3 separate regions of the Homo sapiens genome follow, and regions 2 and 3 are each linked to region 1. The links come from fine-mapping of genetic effects on gene expression. A gene starts in region 1. Each other region holds a variant in brackets. All regions are shown on one strand. Distances are from middle to middle. Region 1 holds the start of PPP4R3B (protein phosphatase 4 regulatory subunit 3B). Region 2 overlaps PNPT1 (polyribonucleotide nucleotidyltransferase 1). Region 3 has its middle 43 kb from the start of CCDC88A.

What was found.
Region 2: its variant is fine-mapped to the expression of PPP4R3B in whole blood (TOPMed, PIP above 0.99). The same link has a PIP of 0.9 or more in skeletal muscle.
Region 3: its variant is fine-mapped to the expression of PPP4R3B in whole blood (INTERVAL, PIP 0.92).

Annotation. Positions count from the first base shown.
Region 1 is chr2:55,616,074-55,618,834 of GRCh38, reverse strand. It overlaps PPP4R3B (protein phosphatase 4 regulatory subunit 3B), which reads left to right and starts at 1,213. Exons shown (of 17, transcript NM_001122964.3): 1 at 1,213-1,691. The coding sequence starts at 1,550. It overlaps PPP4R3B-DT (PPP4R3B divergent transcript), which reads right to left and starts at 905. Exons shown (of 3, transcript NR_186624.1): 1 at 453-905. RefSeq lists enhancers at 843-892, 913-1,312, 406-1,330, 1,331-2,257.
Region 2 is chr2:55,644,853-55,647,613 of GRCh38, reverse strand. PNPT1 (polyribonucleotide nucleotidyltransferase 1) reads left to right here. Exons shown (of 28, transcript NM_033109.5): 19 at 161-267; 20 at 1,128-1,199; 21 at 1,292-1,355; 22 at 2,182-2,265. Among named protein-coding and RNA genes, the nearest start is that of PPP4R3B-DT, 28 kb to the right of the region's middle. The variant G/C (reference allele first, on the strand shown) is at 1,364.
Region 3 is chr2:55,461,851-55,464,611 of GRCh38, reverse strand. No RefSeq gene overlaps it. Among named protein-coding and RNA genes, the nearest start is that of CCDC88A, 43 kb to the right of the region's middle. The variant T/C (reference allele first, on the strand shown) is at 1,525.

The sequences.
Region 1 (2,761 bases):
ACAAGCTGAGAGACTGTATTAAAGAACGAATATAGCGGGGATGGGGAGCAGGCGTCTACGGTCCCAGCTACTCGGGAGGCTGAGGTGAGAGGATCGCTTGAGCCCTCAAGGCGGAGGCTACAGTGAGTCGAGATAGCGCCATTGCACTCTAGCCTGGGAAGCAGAGAGAGACTATCAAAAACAACAAAACGAATAAAGGGATTCTACCAAGAGTGAGCTGGACTGAAATAAACGACACGCTACTACGACCCAGCGCGTGACTATATCCACCGCACAATGTGCGATAATAGCCTCAATGCAGAGAGAATTCCTCCTTTCCTTATTCAGTGCAAGAGAGCCCTATAGAGAACGCAGGAAATGCCCGCGAGAAACTGAGAAGTATCAAAACAATCACAGATATGTTAGGAAAGTAGCTCCCCGCCACTTCCCTAAACTTATCATAGCAGACTTACTTTCCAAGGTTACAAACACAAGAAGAGCACTGTATTTTCATGAAGCGGAAAATGTGCTTTACAATCGCCAGCTACTAAGAGCCTTAACGGTGAAGCGCTCTGCAAGAAACAGGAAATCGTCAACACACTTTCTGCATGAATTGCCTGGAGAGTTGTGTCCATAGACAATTCCTGGTTAGATGCTTAATTGTAGCAGACTCCATAACGGGGTTTAGCGGGTTTCCATTCGGCAGAAAGGGCTCCACGTTCTTTTTCACAGAAAGGTTTAAACTTATTTTTCCTCCTCAGGCGGACGAAGTGAGCGTCGTTCCGTGAAGGTATGAAACCCTTTTCCTTCCTTTCTGTCCCTGGTTACTCCGGTTCAAGGCTACGTACTTCCCCGGTTTGCTTTGTTTTTTCCTCAGAGCTAAGTTCCTAGGAACGTCACATACTGGTGCCATCCAACAACATGACGACGTGCGGAACCGAAGTCCCCTTCCACCTAGCGGCCTCTCGCGGCGCAGGCGTGGACGGGGAGATCGCGAGAACCTCCCGCCCAATTGCGACCCCGCGCCAAGAGGCGGGGCCGAAAGAGGAGGAAGTCGGGCCGAAAGAGGAGGAAGTCTCGCCGAAGTACTCCCGCCCCAGTCGGTACCCCTCCTCGCGAGAGCGCCGAGCATTCCGGCCTGGGAAGCGCGTGCAGAAGCGGAGGTGCTGCTCATGGGACTTGTCGGCCGCCGTAGCCCCTGCTAGGACAGCCCGTGCGAGCCTGCTGGAGGAGGAAGAGAAAGGCAGAGAGAGTCGGGTTACAAGATGGCGGATCTGTAGTAGTTACCGCGGCGGCGGGAGAGCAAGCGAGCCCTGGGGGGCAAAGAGACGGGAGAGTGGGTGTATGCGCGGGTGAAGTGAGAGGTAACGGGGCCTCCGGGCGGAGAGGCCTCAGTGGCTCTTGTCACCCCTTCTCGCGGCTGAACCTTTGGAGCCATGGTGAATTCGGGCCTCTCCGAAGCCGCCGCCGCCGCCACCGCCACTACTGCCTTTACCGTCTCCTAAGAGTGAGGAGCGCGGACGAGGTAAGCGAGGAGGCGGCGGCTAGAGCGGTGGAGACAGCAGCCACCATGTCGGATACGCGGCGGCGAGTGAAGGTCTATACCCTGAACGAAGACCGGCAATGGGACGACCGAGGCACCGGGCACGTCTCCTCCACTTACGTGGAGGAGCTCAAGGGGATGTCGCTGCTGGTTCGGGCAGAGTCCGACGGTAAGGTTATCGGAACTGTAGAATAGGGGATAGTGCCTCTGGTTGGGGCACAGCTTGGGTTTAGGGCCCTGGGCCCGTTACCGTTGCTACTCCTTCGGGACAGCGCGTTGGTTCTGAACTGGCTCTTGTGTACGGCAAAAACAAAGTACTGTACTTTTGACTGGACTTATCCTCGGAGACCGAGACTCTCTGTCCTTCTCCCATCTCTCTTAAGGATTGGACTCCTTCCTTTCCAGTCCCTCCTCTTTTGAAGAGGGGAGAGTGTGAGAGAGAAGGGAGGAAGTAGTGAGAGACTAGGTACTGATGTCGCCCTAGGAGCTGACACCTTCCTCCCCCTTTATTTACTTATCCATTATACGTCTAGTACAAACGGTTTAGGGAAACTTTTCTTTCCGAGTGTTTTTAAAAAAAAAAAATTGTACCAACGGGCCCCAGGTGCCACAGTCGACAGGTGCTGGGGAAAACCGAAAGGCACGTTTTCCTGGCTGTATTGCTGACTGTTGCCACGATACATGGACACACAAGCACATACATCTGTAGTCTGCATTTCTTCGGGCTGCCTTTGTAGAAGGCGCTATGAGAAAGTGAATGCCTTACAATCTAAGCAAGTTGGGACACCAAAGCAGGTTGTAAACTGCTGTGTTCTTTGGTTTATTGTAGTCATGTGAAGTATTTTAAATTACAAAATGTAGAGCCGTAATTAAAATGCCTTTTATAGTATAATCTGGACTTGATTTGAACAACTGATATAGGCAGTTAGAAAAATAATCTTAGGTTTAGTCTTGACATATTTTGTATTCTTGCTTGTTCCCTTTTATTTTAAATAGTCATCACTTCTACAGAAGGTGTTCTTTTGTTCTTAATGAGGAAAGGATAAATGCAGCACTGTAATTTCTATACTAAGTATTTAATCCCTGTCATGATGTTTTTGTTTTGTAATTTGCATTATTTGTTAAACTGGGAATGCAATAAAACAACTTTTGTTAAAACGAATGGCTTGAAGTGGTCATTTAGACCTTAAAATTTTTATTTCAATAAAATTTTAATAGTCATCTAGTCTCCTCATTCCT
Region 2 (2,761 bases), 29 kb before region 1:
CAGGAAGCAGAGGCTACAGTGAGCCAAGATCATGCCACTGCACTCCAGTCTGGGCAACAGACCGAGACTCCCTCTCAAAAAAAAAAAAAAATTGATAGATAAATATTTGTTTTAGGCTCATGTACACATTACCCACAGTTGTTCTTTTTCCCAATTATAGGGGTTCCAATTTCATCTGCTGTTGCAGGCGTAGCAATAGGATTGGTCACCAAAACCGATCCTGAGAAGGGTGAAATAGAAGATTATCGTTTGCTGACAGATATTTTGGCAAGTATATTCTCGGTTTCAAATATTTAATAATGAAGACTAAAAATAAATAAATAAAAATTAAAAGATAAAAACAAATAATGGTGAAGACTATATGTACTTTGCACCTAGCGTATGCTTAGAAGAATGCTAGTATTTGAAGAACAGGTACTTGTTCTTCCCTTCCTCCTCTGCATGTTCACCTTGTATCTTATAGGATATGAATTTAAAATAGATATTATATTAATAGTAATAGGCCAGGCACAGTGACTCATGCCTGTAATCCCAGCACTTTGGGAAGTCAGGAGTTCCAGACCAGTCTGGCTAATGTGGCAAAACTCCATCTCTACTAAAAATACAAAAATTAGCCTGGGCATGGTGGCACACACCTGTAATCCCATCTACTTGGCAGGCTGAGGCAGAATTGCTTGAACCCGGGAGGCAGAGGTTGCAGTGAGCCAAGATCGTGCCACTGCACTCCATCCTGGGCAACAGAGCAAGACTGTGTCTCAAAATAAGTAAAATAAAATAAAATAAAATGATTACTTTAAAAAAATAGTAATACTTACCCTTAAGTATTGCAGTAATACTTACACAGTGTAAGTATTCATAATGACTCACTTTAGGATGAGCATAAATTCATTCTCAGGCATTTATGAGGGAAAGGAATGATCTAAAAATAAAATGATGTTTCTGGTGAAAATAATTGTAGCTTAAAAAGTCACAAATTGGAAGTGGTAGTTAATGTAGAAAACATTGCTTTGTGTTTGGACTTAGGATATGGTTTACTTCTAAAGCTGTTTTTTGAAATGTTTCTACAGTGAATATGTTGACTTTTGTTTTTGTTTAAAACTATGTCATAACTTTTTAAATTCCTGAAGGGAATTGAAGATTACAATGGTGACATGGACTTCAAAATAGCTGGCACTAATAAAGGAATAACTGCATTACAGGTATTTTTAAAACCCATTTTGTTTCATTTTTGTAACATTTAAATAATGCCATGAGTCAATATTTATATAATTGTTTGACTTTTCCATATTAGGCTGATATTAAATTACCTGGAATACCAATAAAAATTGTGATGGAGGCTATTCAACAAGCTTCAGGTGAGCTA[G/C]TGTGCTTGATTCTCCCTTCATTCTTTTCCACTTTGCTAATGGGAACTATAGTTCTCATTAGGCTTATTATAAAATATTGCTTTAAAAAGTGGAATTTCATATAACTTAGATCAAGAAGTACTGGCCAGGTGTGGTGGCTCATGTCTGTAATCCCAGCACTTTGAGAGGCCGAGGCAGGCAGATCACTTCAGGTCAGGAGTTCGAGACCAGCCTGGCCAACATGGTGAAACCCTGTCTCTACTAAAAGTACAAAAATTAGCCGGGCATGGTGGTGCATACCTGTAATCCCAGCTACTCAGGAGGCTGAGACAAGAGAATCGCTTGAGCCCAGGAGGCAGAGGTTACAGTGAGCCGAGATCATGCCATTGCGCGCCAGCCTGGGTGACAGAGGGAAAATGTCTCAAAAAAAAAGAAGTACTAAGTAGCCAGGCATGGCATGGTGGCTCATCCTAGCACTTTGGGAGGCCAAGGCAGGAAGATTGCTTGAGCCCCAGGAGTTCAAGACCAGCCTGGGCAACGTAGTGAGATCCCATATCTATTTTAAAAAAAGAAGAAGCACAACTAAGTTTTTGGGACACATGAATACACGCCAAAGTGGGTTACCAGTGAAATTTCAATTTTTACAAATTAAACAACTCTATTTAAGATGGGATTTTTGGAGAAGAGAATATGAGTGAATTTTCAAGGTAATAGGGATGTGGAAAGCTTCAATTATTAAGCTACAGGGTTTAGATTGTATACCGTGAAAACTAAGAGTACAGTATTTCAGATCATATTTGTTTTATGTAGTTATAATTTTTGTGTTTTTCTCTTCTAGTGGCAAAAAAGGAGATATTACAGATCATGAACAAAACTATTTCAAAACCTCGAGCATCTAGAAAAGAAAATGGACCTGTTGTAGGTAATACATTAAAATTTTAGTGATCGGCTGGGCGCGGTGGCTCACGCCTGTAATCCCAGCACTTTGGGAGGCCGAGGCGAGCGGATCACAAGGTCAGGAGATCGAGACCATCCTGGCTAACACGGTGAAACCCTGTCTCTACTAAAAAATACAAAAAATTAGCCGGGCGTGGTGGCGGGCGCCTGTAGTCCCAGCTACTCGGGAGGCTGAGGCAGGAGAATGGCATGAACCCGGGAGGCGGAGCTTGCAGTGAGCCGAGATCGCGCCACTGCACTCCAGCCTGGGCGACAAAGTGAGACTCCGTCTCAAAAAAAAAAAAAAAAAAATTTTAGTGATCATGGTAAGATAAACATTAATATATGAATGAATATTACTGCTTTTAAATTGTTTTTACCCAGTGCACAAAACGAAAATATTTTAAATACTTTTGTAGTTAAAATGCTTTAAATTTTAGGGAATATTCTTTAACAGTTTTCAGTAATTTTAATCATCTACT
Region 3 (2,761 bases), 150 kb after region 1:
ATATATGTTTAGGAAAGTTAGCTCTTCTTGTTGAATTGATCCCTTTACCATTATGTAATGGCCTTCTTTGTCTCTTTTGATCTTTGTTGGTTTCAAGTCTGTTTCATCAGAGACTAGGATTGCAACCCTTGCTTTTTTTTTTGCTTTCCATTTGCTTGGTAGATCTTCCTCCATCCCTTTATTTTGAGTCTATGTGTGTCTCTGCACATGAGATGGGTCTCCTGAATACAGCACGGTGATGGGTCTTGATTCTTTATCCAATTTGCCAGTCTGTGTCTTTTAATTGGGGCATTTAGCCCATTTACATTTAAGGTTAACATTGTTATGTGTGAATTTGATCCTGTCATTATGACGTTAGCTGGTTATTTTGCTCGTTCGTTGATGCAGTTTCTTCCTAGCATTGATGGTCTTTATAATTTGGCATGTTTTTGCAGAGGCTGGTACCAATTTTCCTTTCCATGTTTAGTGCTTCCTTCAGGAGCTCTTGTAGGGCAGGCCTGGTGGTGACAAAATCTCTCAGCATTTGCTTGTCTGTAAAGGATTTTATTTCTCCTTCACTTATGAAGCTTAGTTTGGCTGGATATGAAATTCTGAGTTGAAAATTCTTTTCTTTGAGATTGTTGAACGTTGGACTCCACTCTCTTCTGGCTTGTAGAGTTTCTGCCGAGAGATCCGCTGTTAGTCTGATGGGCTTCCCTTTGTGGGTAACCCGACCTTTCTCTCTGGCTGCCCTTGACATTTTTTCCTTCATTTCAACCTTGGCGAATCTGACAATTATGTGTCCTGAGGTTGCTGTTCTCGAGGAGTATCTTTGTGGTGTTCTCTGTATTTCGTGAATTTGAATGTTGGCCTGCCTTGTAGGCTGGGGAAGTTCTCCTGGACAATATCCTGAAGAGTGTTTTCCAACTTGGTTCCATTCTCCCTGTCACTTTCAGGTACACCAATCAAACGCAGATTTGGTCTTTTCACATAGTCCCATATTTCTTGGAGGCTTTGTTCATTTATTTTTGCTTTTTTCTCTAAACTTCTCTTCTTGCTTCACTTCATTAATTTGATCTTCAATCACTGATACCCTTTCTTCCACTTGATCGAATTGGCTACTGAAGCTTGTGCATGCGTCACGTAGTTCTTATGCCATGGTTTTCAGCTCCATCAGGTCATTTAAGGTCTTCTCCATGCTGTTTATTCTAGTTAGCCATTCGTCTGATCTTTTTTCCAGGTTTTTAGCTTCCTTGCAATGGGTTCGAACATCCTCTTTTAGCTCGGAGAAGTTTGTTATTACTGACCTTCTGAAGCCTACTTCTGTCAACTTAACAAAGTCATTCTCTGTCCCGCTTTGTTCCGTTGCTGGCAAGGAATTGCGATCCTTTGGAGGAGAAGAGGCGCTCTGGTTTTTAGAATTTTCAGCTTTTCTGCTCTGGTTTCTCCCCATCTTTGTGGTTTTATCTACCTTTGGTCTTTGATGATGGTGACTACAGATGGGGTTTTGGTGTGGATGTCTTTGGTTGATGTTGATGCTATTCC[T/C]TTCTGTTTGTTAGTTTTCCTTCTAACAGTCAGGTCCCTCAGCTGCAGGTCTGTTGGAGTTTGCTGGAGGTCCACTCCAGACCCTTTTTGCCTGGGTATCACCAGCGGAGGCTGCAGAACAGCAAATACATTGCTGTCTGATCCTTCCTCTAGAAGCTTCGTCTCAGAGGGACACCCGGCTGTATGAGGTGTCAGTTGGCTGCTACTGGGAGGTGTCTCCCAGTTAGGCTACACGGAGGTCAGGTACCCACTTGAGGAGGCAGTCTGTCCGTTCTCAGAGCTCAAATACCATGCTGAGAGAAACAGTGCCATCTTCAGAGCTGTCAGACAGGGATGTTTAAGTCTGCAGAAGTTTCTGCTGCCTTTTTTTCAGCTATGCCTTGACCCCAGAGGTGGAGTCTACAAAGACAGGCAGGCCTCGTTGAGCTGCGGTGAGCTCCACCCAGTTTAAGCTTCCTGTCCACTTTGTTTCCCTACTCAAACCTCAGCAATGGTGGACGCCCCTCCCCGAGCCAGGCTGCCGCCTCACAGTTTGATCTCAGACTGCTGTGCTAGCAGTGAGCAAGGCTCTGTGGGCATGGGACCCACTGAGCCATGCGCGGGATATAATTTCCTGGTGTGCCGTTTGCCAAGACTGGTGGAAAAGCACAGTATTTGGGTGGCAAAGTCCCGATTTTCCAGGTACAGTCTGTCATGGCTTTCCTTAGCTAGGAAAGGGAAATCCCCTGATCCCTGGCACTTCCCGGGTGAGGCGATGCCCTGCCCTGCTTCAACTCGCTCTCTGTGGGCTGCACCCACTGTCCAACCAGTCCCAATGAGATGAACCAGGTACCTCAGTTGGAAATGTAGAAATCACCCATCTTCTGCGTCAATCACGCTGGGAGCTGCAGACCAGAGCTGTTCCTATTTGGCCATCTTGGAATGGACCCCTATTTACCCTACTTTCAAGCTACAAGTTAAAGTTATCCAATGTGTTGGAGTACAATTTTTCATAGTATCATTATAATCCTTTCTATTTCTGTAAGCTGGTAATAATGTCCCCACTTCTGAAAAAGTTTAGTTGAAAATTATTTTACCGTAGAAATTTTCAAATATACACAAAAGTTAAGTAAATAGCATGATTCACTCCTACATACTTATCATCAAGATGAACAATTTTCAAGGGTTCATTAGACTTGCTTCATCTATTCCTTATCTTTCCCTCCCTCTCTCATGCAACCTAAGAGTGTATGAAAGG